Linked DNA regions of Homo sapiens. The protein of the gene in region 1 interacts with the protein of each later gene in a pairwise test. Each region holds a gene or a part of one and is shown in the gene's direction. Other genes may lie near its edges. The genes, in order: KCNIP3, TMTC1 and SRL.

Region 1 (3,818 bases):
CCAGATGGAGGAGCCTGGCCCGGAACCCCCACCACCACTCCACCCAGACTCTCTCCACAGGGAGAAAAGACACACTGGGGCCCCCTAGCCCAGGAGGGCATCACAGCACTCCTCAACGGATATTTTTGGAAGGCTGCTGATGTGCCTGAGGGGCTTCGGAACACACCCAGCTCCAGAGACCGCCCCAGGGACCCAGGCCGAGAAACAGCCTCAGCAGCAAAGCCTGTGGTCAAGCCCATGTGAACTTTGGAATCAGAAGACTATATGTGTAGTGTGGCCCTGGCATGTCCCAAAACTTCTCAGGGAATTAGTTTCCTCATCTGTGAAATGGGGATCGTCTTACCGATTGCAGGGGGTTGTCGTGACGAGATTACTTTCAGCTCAACATAGACATCCACTTGGGAGGTGCTCAGCCTGCCCTTTGGGCTCACCCAGCCTTCCCGGGAGGACTGAGCCCTGTGAGCTAGAACCCAGGACACCCATGGGATCTCCCGCACGACCTGGGCCTGGGGCTTCAAGACAGAATCCCTGTGACTAACCCTGGGCCCCGAGAAGCAGCCTTGCCAGCCAAGCCAGTGCTGTTCTGAGATGGGCTGCAGACGGGGCTGGGGGTCCCAGTGAAGAGCTCCTGCCAGGGGCTCCGAGGCCGCCTCAGTTTCTTCTGATGTCCTCTGCTCACCCCCCACGCAGAGCCTGCAGCAAAGAATTTGTGATGTAATGAAGCACCTGCTGCCCCTCTCTCCCCTACGACCCTCCTTAACCAAAATAAAGACTCCTGAATAAGATCATGAATAATGGAGAAAGTGCGTTTCTGACCCAGCCTGACAGGACGTGTGTGTGCATATGTATGTGTGAGCACATGTGCATATGAGCATGTGTACGTGTGTGTGCCTATGCATGTGTGCTTGTGTGTGCATATGAACATGTGTACTTGTGTGCATGTGTGTGCGTGTGTGTGCATGTGAGCATTGTACACGTGTGTGTGCATAGCGTGTGCACATAGGGAGCTTCCCTCAGCACCCCAGGCACCCGTCCACCCCCAGCTCTCCCCCTGTTTCTGCTCCATCAGCATGGTCAGTGCCTCTTCTTGCTGCAGCTCTGGGCACCACTGAGCCCCCTCATTGCTTGGTGAGCCTTGGAGAAGGGGAGGGACGTGCAGGGGTTGTTGCCAAGGGTGTGTCGGAGGAAGGGTGGATGATGACTGTGAGCTGGAGGACTGGTAGTTGGGACCTAGCTGGGGAAGGCCCAAAAGCCAGGATAAGGGAACTGGACATCTCCCTGCCTAGGGGACCACTTCATCAAACACTGACTAGTGGGCCAGCTGCCCATCCCGAATGTGGATAGGCCTCAGGGGACCATGAGCCAGTGAAGCACCCAGAGAATCCTCCCCCAGCTGGAGCCTGCAGTGTGCAGAGACCAGTGGGGGTGCCAGGCCCATGCCTCGGGAGAGGGGCCAGCCTTTGCAGCAGCAGCAGAGCCCTGTCGCTGGGCTCTGTGTGGACGGGCATGGCCAGGGCTGGTGTCCGGCGCTGCTCTCTGATCTCGTCTGCTTTCCAGGACTGGCTCTCTGTGCTTCCCTGCAGGCTGTGACTGGCCCGGGCTCCCTGCTGCCAATTCTTCCAGTTCAAATCAACCTGGGTCAGTCTCTGGCTCTTGCACCTGACAGTCCAACTAGCACAGGGGCTGTCTTCCAGGGCTGCCTCTGTAGAAGCTGCTTGACGGCCCCGTCCATCTGTTATTTACTTTGAACAACCAAATACTTTTCAGGACCGTGCAAAGGTAGCACACACGAGACCCTGTGACCTGGGAAGGGTATGGACAACCCACCCCCTGAGTGGCCCTCTTTACTGGCCAAGGAACCCAACTGCTCAGAACACATATGCATGTGGGGGTGGTGCCACTGCCACAGCTAGAGGTCAGGCAGTGCGTCACAGACAAAATGAGGGCCATTGGTGGGCTGTGGTCCAATGGGCCAGACCACACCTGTCCCCCTGCCACCCCGAGCAGGAGAGGACAGCACAAAGGCAGCAAACTAGACCCAGCAGGTGCACAGAGGTGTGGCCAGCGGCAGCCTGCGGTGCACCTCCCTCCTCTGTGCCTCATGGGCCAGCTGCCAGCATGGGAACTGAGCATGGTGGGCAGTTTGGATGTCAGGATTGGGGGGCCTGAAATACGTTGTAGGAGAGCAAATCCTGCTGCCCTGGGGCCTCCACCATGACCCCAGGAGGTTGTTTTCTGATCCACACCGACTCAGGCACATGGCCCACTGCTTTTTTTTTTTTTTTGAGACAGTCTGGCTCTGTTGGCCTTGCTGGAGTGCAGTGGCATGATCTCAGCTCACTGTAACCTCCGTCTCCCGGGCTCAAGCAATTCTCCTGCTTCAACCTCCTGAGTAGCTGGGATTACAGGCACATGCCACCACGTCTGGCTAATTTTTGTATTTTTAGTAGAGACAGGGTTTCATCATGTTGGTCAGGCTGGTCTCGAACTCCTGACCTCAGGTGATCCGCCTGCCTCGGCCTCCTAAAGTGCTAGGATTACAGGCGTGAACCACCACGCCCGGCTGATCCACTGCCTCTTAATGACCACCCATGACTCACTCCTCCCAAGACTCTCCTGCCCATAGCTGGAGCTGTTTCTTCAGATCCCTGCCAGCCTCAGTGGTCGGTTCCACCAGTGCAGCCCTCCTGGGGTCACCACCCAGCCTTTCATTCATTCTCAGCTTGCCTCAGCATGAAAACTCAGGCAGAGCAGGGGCCCTGCTGGGGGAGTGAGGGAGCCAGACGTGGCTGTGTGACCCTGTACAGATCCACTTGCCTCTCTGGTTTTCAGGCAGATGAGGGATTGGGATCGTGATTTCTAAGGGGCTGTCCAGCTCCGACAACCTGGCCTGTGCCAAGGTGGAGAATCCAATGAGTAAGTCTGGGATCACTGCTGACATCCCCTCTCTGCACCCCTGTCTGCCCCTCTTCCAGGGGTCCCATCTTACACCATAGCCAGGGTGTAGAGTGAAAGGAACCTCCCCAGGTCTGGCAGGAATGGCCAGGACAAGGGGCACTAGGCATGCAGCCCCGGAAGGTGAGCCCTCTGTTGTGTTCAGGCTGGCCTCATCTAGGATATCAGGGCAGCTCGGGACCATCCAGGGGTCCCCCCTCTGAGCAGGGGCTCAGGGCTGCTCTGCCTGTTCCTACTGCAGGAAGTGACAAAGGCGTCGGACGGCAGCCTCCTGGGGGACCTCGGGCACACACCACTTAGCAAGAAGGAGGGTATCAAGTGGCAGAGGCCGAGGCTCAGCCGCCAGGCTTTGATGAGATGCTGCCTGGTCAAGTGGATCCTGTCCAGCACAGCCCCACAGGGCTCAGGTAGGGGCCAGGGTGGGCTGTGGTCAAGGGTGGGGGTGGGGAGATCTGTTCTGAGCACTGTCCTTTCTGAGGGCTCAAAGGCCAGCCTGGGACCCCAGCCTGGGCTACATCGCCCCTGTCTCTATTGGAGGTGTGTTTTCATTCATTCACACCCTTCCCCATTCATTGAGTGCCTGCTTCACACAGGCCACTGAGCTCCCAGTGGGACCCACAGAGCATGGGTACAGAGAGCTGGGACCACACTGCGGTTTTCCAGTTGGCTAGGAAGACAGAGCCAGGCTGCAGAGTCCAACAAACCAGGCTCCACCCTGCCCACTGCTCACGCCCTGAGTAAGCCGGGGCACCTCATTGATCCTTTCTAAGCCTTCCGTGAGAAGCCAGGCTGGAACCTGTCCACAGGGCACATTTGAAGATGGGAAATAATGTGTGCAGTGCCTGGTGATCAGGAGGCCCCAC
Region 2 (3,600 bases), on another chromosome or scaffold:
GGTCATGGAGCACTCTGATACTGTTTCCATCTAAAAAAGAAAACAACTCCGAGAAGAAGGGGGTAGCCAGAGCTCTTCCTTGGAAAAGGATGACTTAAGGATAATTTGAGGAAGGAAAAAAGACTTTCTTTCTATAAAAATCTACTATTAGAGGCCACTCTTTTCTTTTCTTTTTTGAGGCAGGGTCTCACTCTGTAGCCCAGGCCAGTCTTGAACTCCTGGCCTCAAGCAACGCTCCTGCCTTGGCCTCCCAAAGTGCTGGGATTGCGGGTGTGAGCCATTGCACCTGGCCTAGAGTCACTCTTTTGGGTTAAGACGTTCTCTCTAGAAAGCCTCCGTTAATTATAGGTAAGGATTGATACATTGACCTATTACCTCAACTATGATTTCAGCAAAGATAATTTCACTATCCCAATCAGCTGTTAACTTAGAAAGCTAGACTTTTATGGTGTTAACCACACACACATACAGACGCACACACACGAGCAGCTTTGGGTCTTCCAATCCTATACTTAGCACATTGTAGCACAAAGAATCTCCTTAATATATTTTTATTAAGTTAATAGGTGAATAGGAAAGGCTGTAGTGTGTTATACGGGGAAATAGACTCAGGTGTGTCTAGATATTAAAGTCGGTATATTAAGGTTACCAAGCGTGAAAGATTTTGATGGAAGAATGAAAACATCCATGTCCAGGACTTCCAGTTTCATTTCTCAGTCACTAATTTCAAGTCACCAAATAAACAAAGTGAAAATGGGTGAAACGTACTTTGAGTTACAATAAGTTTATCTTAATTCATTGACTTTTCAACTGCTCAGATGTCTTAAAATTTTTTAAAAAGTAAGTTGTTATAGTAAAGAGCCACACAAATACTCATAGCAGAGGAACAATTTCTGGATTATGTCGGTGAGCTTTTTAAGGGTTTGGGGAGGATGAGAATAAAAGGGTGACTTTTTATTTTCAGTTTTTCTATCTGGATGTGTCAAATTCCTGATAACTTCTAACACTCAGCAATGGAAATTTAGAAGGTGCCTGAAAGAACAAATAGAATTTTCAGACCTGGAGAAATTCTAGTAATCATCACTCTGGGACATATTATTAAAATTAGTATTTTAAAAAAGAAAACAATCTTTCAGAAAGACAGGAAGTTTAGGAGCCAAAGCCAGAGGCCCTAATACAAATCGCCCCCACCTCCCCATCCCCCCATCCCCACCTTCTTCCCCGCCCTGTTCAAACACGCCCACAGCCCAGGAAATAATGAGACCCAAGTGATCCAGCTAGATAGAAAAAGTAGTTTGCTTGGCATCTCCCAAATTATCTTGAGCAAACAATAAAATAAGAAATGTTTCAGAAGACAATTCGGCTCCCAGGCCCAAACCAAAACTCGAACCTGGTACTTTTTGTAAGTGCGGGCCAAGAAAGGGGCTGTAAAGTTAAAGAGCCGGTGGCGCCTCTGAACACACCCGGGCAGGGCGAGCAGGATGTCCTTGTCCAGGGAGACCCCTTCTCCTGGCTTTGAGGAAGGTGCTCCCTATCCCCGCGGGTTCCTCCGCCAAGCGGGACGCCGCGCCGGGCGGGTGAGAGAAAGCCCGGGCAGGAGAGCACAGAGCCGGCGACTGGACGCGAGCGCGGGGCGGGTGGAGAGCGTCTCTCCGGGCGCCGCTGCTGTTGTCCCGGGTGCTGAAAAGCCGGGAACTTCCCGGGAAGCAGCGGCACTTTTCTCCCTGGAAGGTGGGTGTGGGGGTTCCAGACTGCGCACCTGCTAAACCCTCCTGGGTCCCCCGGGAGGGGTCCGCCAGATGTGCCCCTTCCCAGCCCCATTCGGGGGAGAAGGATGGGGGCGGGGGCGTGGGGGTGAGCACAGCCGGACACCGCAAGTGGGAACCTGGGGTGTCCTTCCCCGCAGCTCCCGGGCAGCCGCGCGCCGCGAACCCCGGTCCACCTGCAAGCAAGGCGGGCCGGGGGCAGAGGGCGCCGGGCTGTGCGGGGGAACCGGCCCGCGTCCCGGGATTGGGGGGCGGTGGAAGAGAGAGCGAGCGGGCATGCGCAGTGGGGCGGAGGAGGTGGCGATGGCCGGGGGAGGCGGGGGGACTGCTGTTTATTTGCAGCTGGGCCAACTCCGCGGCGCAGGCGGCGGCGGAGCGCGGGGAGCTCGCGGCGGGTCCAGCTGCCGCAGCACCATGCCCGAGCCCCCCTCCGGGCAGACGCCGCGCGCCGCCGGGGCCCCGGTAGGGGAGGATGCCAGACGCCCGGGAGAGGCCAGGGCAGCAGCGGCGGCGGCGGCGCGATGGTGGTGACCACCTCTGCCCGAGGCGGCGGCGGGGACCGCACACCCTCCCGGCGGCGGGGCTGCGGGCTAGCGCCGGCCGGGGCCGCGGCGCTGCTGGCCGGGGCAAGCTGCCTGTGCTACGGCCGCTCCCTGCAGGGCGAGTTCGTGCACGACGACGTGTGGGCGATCGTGAACAACCCCGACGTGCGGCCCGGCGCCCCGCTCCGCTGGGGCATCTTCACCAACGACTTCTGGGGCAAGGGCATGGCCGAGAACACCAGCCACAAGTCCTACCGGCCGCTCTGCGTCCTCACCTTCAAGTGAGTCCCTCACCTCGCGCTAGCCGCCGCTGCCTCCTCTACCCTCCGCCCGTCCCTCGGACCGGGAGAAGTTGCGGGACTGACTTGGGGGCATTTCATTTTTGCCGCCCTTTCCCTCCACGCCTCCCTCCTCTCCAGGATGTGCATGGCACTTTGCTCCGGGATCCACTGCCCGGCTAATCTGGGCTCTCGGGGCGGTTCGGGAGGCGCCGGCTGGGGAGTTGGGATCGAGTTTCTCAACTGTCTGCCCTCTCAGCGGGCTTCTCTCTCGAGGCAGGGCTGGGAGCGGGCTGGTGAAACCGCCTCCGCACCCCTTCGCCTGCCGGATCGTGACCAAGTGGGACTAGCGCGGACCCAGAGGGTTCCGGAGGGGTGGCGGTGGTGGCGATGCTTCCAAGTAGAGAATTTCTCGGAGGCTGTTGGGCAGCTTTGCAGATGAGAAGTGTATCAGCCCCTTAAGGGTTTCGTTCAGATGAGACGAGGCGGGAGCCTTGAGCTGACAGGGCTGCGTGGGTTCAGGAGAGGGAGCAGAAAACTCTCCCGAGCCCCCCAGCCCCCGCCTTGCACCCTTGGCTGCTCCCAGAGGCTCTCCAATCTGCCAGACTTCTCTGGATCTAGACTTTAGAAGGTGCAGAGAGAGGTAACGCAGAGCCTAGGCTTCTCCAGGGACCCTGGGGCCCCAGCCGAAATAGTTTTTCTTTTACAACCTCGGAGTCATGATTCAGCGTTTCTGGTGTGAATAAGCGTAAAGGGAACCGAGAATATGCCAGGTTTTTGAGGGGTGGAGTATTTTCTTTAATTTGAAAAGAAGCCTAGCTTCTGAGGAAAGAAGAGAAGTGCTCATTTAAGGGAAATGCTATCTTACACAATCAGGAGCTTGACTCAACCCTTTATAATGTGGCTCAGCATTGAAGTTCATTTTAACGCGCCGGTCAAAACTGTTGAAATAATATTGGTGCGCTATTATCGGCGTTTTAAGCCTTTTTGCAACGGGTGTAATAGGAACCCGTG
Region 3 (3,818 bases), on another chromosome or scaffold:
ACAGAAGCTAAGGGCTCCTCCTGGGGTCGAGCTAAGGGTCCTCGGAAAAAAGGCATGTCCGTGCATGGTTCTGTCTGCAGCACCATTTAGAGTTTGATTACTGTCAGCCATTCTGATGGGTTGTAACACTGGTTTGCCTCCACCAGATGTTGAGATAGTTTCCAGATTCCAGAGAAACCAGGCAGAGAGAAACAAACATGCTCCAAATTTTCTTCACAGGAGTATACCTTATTCAATTATTAAAGGCCATAAATAGTTCACAATAAGTTTTCTTGACTCGTTTTGATGAGTGTTGTACCTTGGGATCCCGGATGAGGTCCCCAACATGAAGCAGCTACATTGTTTGGGGTAAATACCTGGGGTTCATTGTCTCACGCCAAGAAAATTTAGGACACAGACACACATGAGGAGTTTAGGAGCAGAGGTTTAACAGGCAAAAGAAAGAGAAAGAAAAACAGCTCCTTAGTGAGAGAGAGGGGACTTCCAAGAGGAAAAGTCCCAAGACCTTGTCTTTGAAAAAGCAGTAGCTCATGCCTGTAATCGTAGTGCTTTGGGAGGTCGAGACAGGAAGATTGCTTGAGCCCAGGAGTTGGAGACCAGCCCGAGTGACATAGGAAGACCATGTTTGCAAAAAACAAAAAAATTAGCCAGATGTGGTGCACACCTGTATTCCCAGCCCCTCGGAGGTTGAGGTGAGAGGGTGGCTTGAGCCCAGGAGTTCAAGGCTGCAGTGAGCTATGATCGTGTCACTACTCCAGCCAGGGTGACAGAGACCCTGTCTCTTAAAAAAGATTAAAAAAAAAAAAAAAGTCAAGTGCCTACCAGATGCCTAATTCTTTTTTTTTTTTTTTTTTTTTTTGAGACAGAGTCTCGCTCTGTTGCCCAGGCTAGAGTCAGTGGTGCAATCTTGGCTCATGGCAACCTTCGCCTCCTGGGATCAAGTGATTCTCCTGCCTCAGCCTCCTGAGGAGCTGGGATTATAGGCACCCGCCACCACACCCAGTAATTTTTGTATTTTTAGTGGAGATGGGGTTTCACCATGTTGGCCAGGCTGGTCTCAATCTCCTGACCTCAGGTGATCCACCCGCCTCGGCCTCCCAAAGTGCTGGGATTACAGGTGTGAGCCACTGTGCCTGGCCCTGATTTAGTTCCTTTCCTCCAAGGCTGGCTTCTACCTCTTCCCCACACAGTGACACTGTACCCCGACCAGACAAGCAAGTGTCTGCTTTCCCTTGGCTTCTTACAACTGGCTCTCTGGGCCATCTACAAAAAATTTTAAAAAATTAGTACAGCATGGTGGCACTACTGTCCTAGCTACTTGGGAGGCTGAGTTGGGAGGATTGATTGAGCCTGGGAGGTCGAGTGCAGTGAGTGATGATTGTGCCACTGCAGTCCAGCCTGGGTGACAGAGCGAGATCCTCTATCAAAAACAAATAAACAAAAAAGCACTTTGCAGAGGTGACTGAATGTTCTGGAACCCCTGGGCCATTGGAAATGGATATCTGTTGCTCCATCCTCCAGTTTACACCGTAGCCTCAGCTTGTGTCTCAGTGTGCCCCTCTCCCTCTGGTCTGTGCTCTCTCTCTTCCAGAGGCTGGGAAGGTTGTTCCAGGGCTGCAGCCTTGGACCTCAGAGGTCACATGTTGCGGGTTTGCCGTAGCTGACCACTCTCTAGCATGTGGATCAGTGGCTGTTAAATAGGATTTCTTTTGCGTGGCCTTACAACTTCCTCCTTCCAGTGCAGGCGTGTCAAGGTCCTTAACCTGCCGAGACTTCAGGTCAAGTTATTGCAAGTTCTGGGAAGACTCAGCTTCCCAGCTCCACCGCCTGAGCCCAAGGGATGCTCCATTTTATGCCTGTCACCCACGCCCTGTGACCCATGTCATGTGATCCCAGGGCTGCAGGGGTTCGGGGGAAGAGAATCCAGCCACGGCCCTGCCTTCTGGGGCCTGGCAGCTGGGACAGCAGTGGCGCAGCCTGAGCCTCTGCACAGCCTTCTGGGGTCCGGGCTTCTTCCCCATCACACCCTCCTAGTTGCCCTGGTGACTGTGTGACCCCTCTCCCCCCTCCACCGCCTGCTGCCACGGCCGGCCGTATAAATAGAGGCGAGGAGCAGCTGGGCTCTCTTGGCAGTCACCATGAGGGCGCTGGTCCTGCTCGGCTGCCTCCTGGCCTCGCTCCTGTTCTCAGGACAAGCAGGTAGGGCCCCTCCCAGCATGACCCAGCCCAGACTGGTCCCCCACGCTTCCTCCAAGGTTTTCTGTCTACCATGGGTTGGGTAGGGGGTCGGGGCTGATGGCAAACCCTGGCTCTTGGCTGGTGTCTTCTTACCCTTCTCTTTTCCCCGGGCCTGGGGCCTCAGAGAAAGAGCTGGGTGCTGGAGAATAGCAGCACAGTTGCGGGGCCCTCAGGAAGGCCAGAGGAAGTGGGAACGGCAAACAGAGCTGAGCTGTGAGCCAGGGTCAGAGAGGAGTCTGGCCAGTAGATGTGGGAAAGAGGGCCCTCAAAGTCGAGACGGGGGAGCCTCTGAGACGGACAAAATAGCACAGTCTGGGAGCTGGAGGTCGTTGAGGTGACCCTCCCACCTGGTGGGATATAAGGCGGAGGCCCCACTCGGGTAAGAGAACTGGGTTTGCGTGGACAGAAGGGGATACAGTGGGCAAAGGTGGGGACCGTTTTGGGAGCAGTGAGATAGAATTGGAATTGGTTTGGGATAAGATCGGAAATAGAGTTGGCGGTTGGGCTGGAAACAGCATTGGATGCAATTCAGAAGAGGAACGGGGCCCGTTCTGGAGTAGAGCCTCTGCTCGGGGTGGGGGCTTCCATCAGAAAAGGGGCTTGGCTCTGTGTGCTGAGGCTTCCCTTTGACATCTCAGCACTTTGGGTAGCAGAGGTGGTGGCTTGGGTTGCAGCATGGGGGTTATCTATAGGCTATGGAGGAGATGCCAGATTGTTTTGCCACCTCTCTTGTTCCTAAGGTTCCTGAGGCCAGGTTCCCCGAGGGAATGCTTTTAGGGAGGTGCTCCGGGGATCCCCCTAGGATCCGGACTGCCCACCGAGTCTTTTCATGACTCGGCAGTCTTCCCCCAAGCTGGGCTCTGAGCCTAGGTCCGTACCTGGGACTGGAGAGGCCCAGAGTCCAGCCTCTCAGGTCTTTGAGGTTGAATAGGGGGTTGCAGGGGCACAGTCCCTGCAGGGAGAGCAGGCAGTGGGTGGGAACAAAAGCTATTTCTCGGGGACTCAAGATGTAAGGTGGGGGGCTCCAGCCACTGCATGTGCTGCTGGGCCCTGCCCTTGTCTGTCCTTGAGTTAATTTGGGCTCTGCAGGGCTGCAGCGGCTTGAGTGCTGAGTATTCCAGGCGGCTGTCAGGCGGCTAAGTATGGAAACAGCCGCGTAATTGGATCCGGAGCCCCAAGCCGCTGCCACCCTCTCCCTTCGTGGCCGCTCCTGTGCTGCCCCCCAGCCCCAGCTGCTGGGCTGCTACACACTGGGCCCCAGGAATTTTTGGCCTTTTAGGGACATCCTTTATCTTTCCTCCCACCGAGGGAACTGGTCATCTGGAATGTTCTGCAGGCCTCGCTGGGGGCTCTTGTCGTGGGGAAAGGACGCAGGCAGGTGCTTGTGCAAAGGTCCCTTCTCTCTGCTGTCTTTCCTTCCTGGGTCCCACAGCGTGCGTCTGCCCCTGGCCCAACCTCCGGCGTAAAGCTTCCCTCTGTCCCTGCTCCTGCTCAGCACTTGGGCTGTGGGTTTCATCCACTGTGGTGGATTTTATCAGGACTCTGCCCCACTGTGGACTGTATACCCCAGAATAGGCCTC

What was found.
Region 2: the proteins of KCNIP3 (region 1) and TMTC1 interact in binary tests that used the Homo sapiens proteins (3 or more experiments, as listed by UniProt).
Region 3: the proteins of KCNIP3 (region 1) and SRL interact in binary tests that used the Homo sapiens proteins (3 or more experiments, as listed by UniProt).

What each region holds. Positions count from the first base shown.
Region 1 is NC_000002.12:95,307,159-95,310,976, forward strand, and holds part of KCNIP3 (calsenilin), read left to right. Parts: intron 1-3,196; coding exon 3,197-3,362; intron 3,363-3,818. UniProt on the Homo sapiens protein: Calcium-dependent transcriptional repressor that binds to the DRE element of genes including PDYN and FOS. Affinity for DNA is reduced upon binding to calcium and enhanced by binding to magnesium. Seems to be involved in nociception.
Region 2 is NC_000012.12:29,782,439-29,786,038, reverse strand, and holds the start of TMTC1 (protein O-mannosyl-transferase TMTC1), read left to right. Parts: upstream 1-2,096; 5' UTR 2,097-2,287; coding exon 2,288-2,589; intron 2,590-3,600. UniProt on the Homo sapiens protein: Transfers mannosyl residues to the hydroxyl group of serine or threonine residues.
Region 3 is NC_000016.10:4,240,388-4,244,205, reverse strand, and holds the start of SRL (sarcalumenin isoform 1 precursor), read left to right. Parts: upstream 1-2,125; 5' UTR 2,126-2,138; coding exon 2,139-2,199; exon of another isoform or gene 2,200-2,617; intron 2,618-3,818.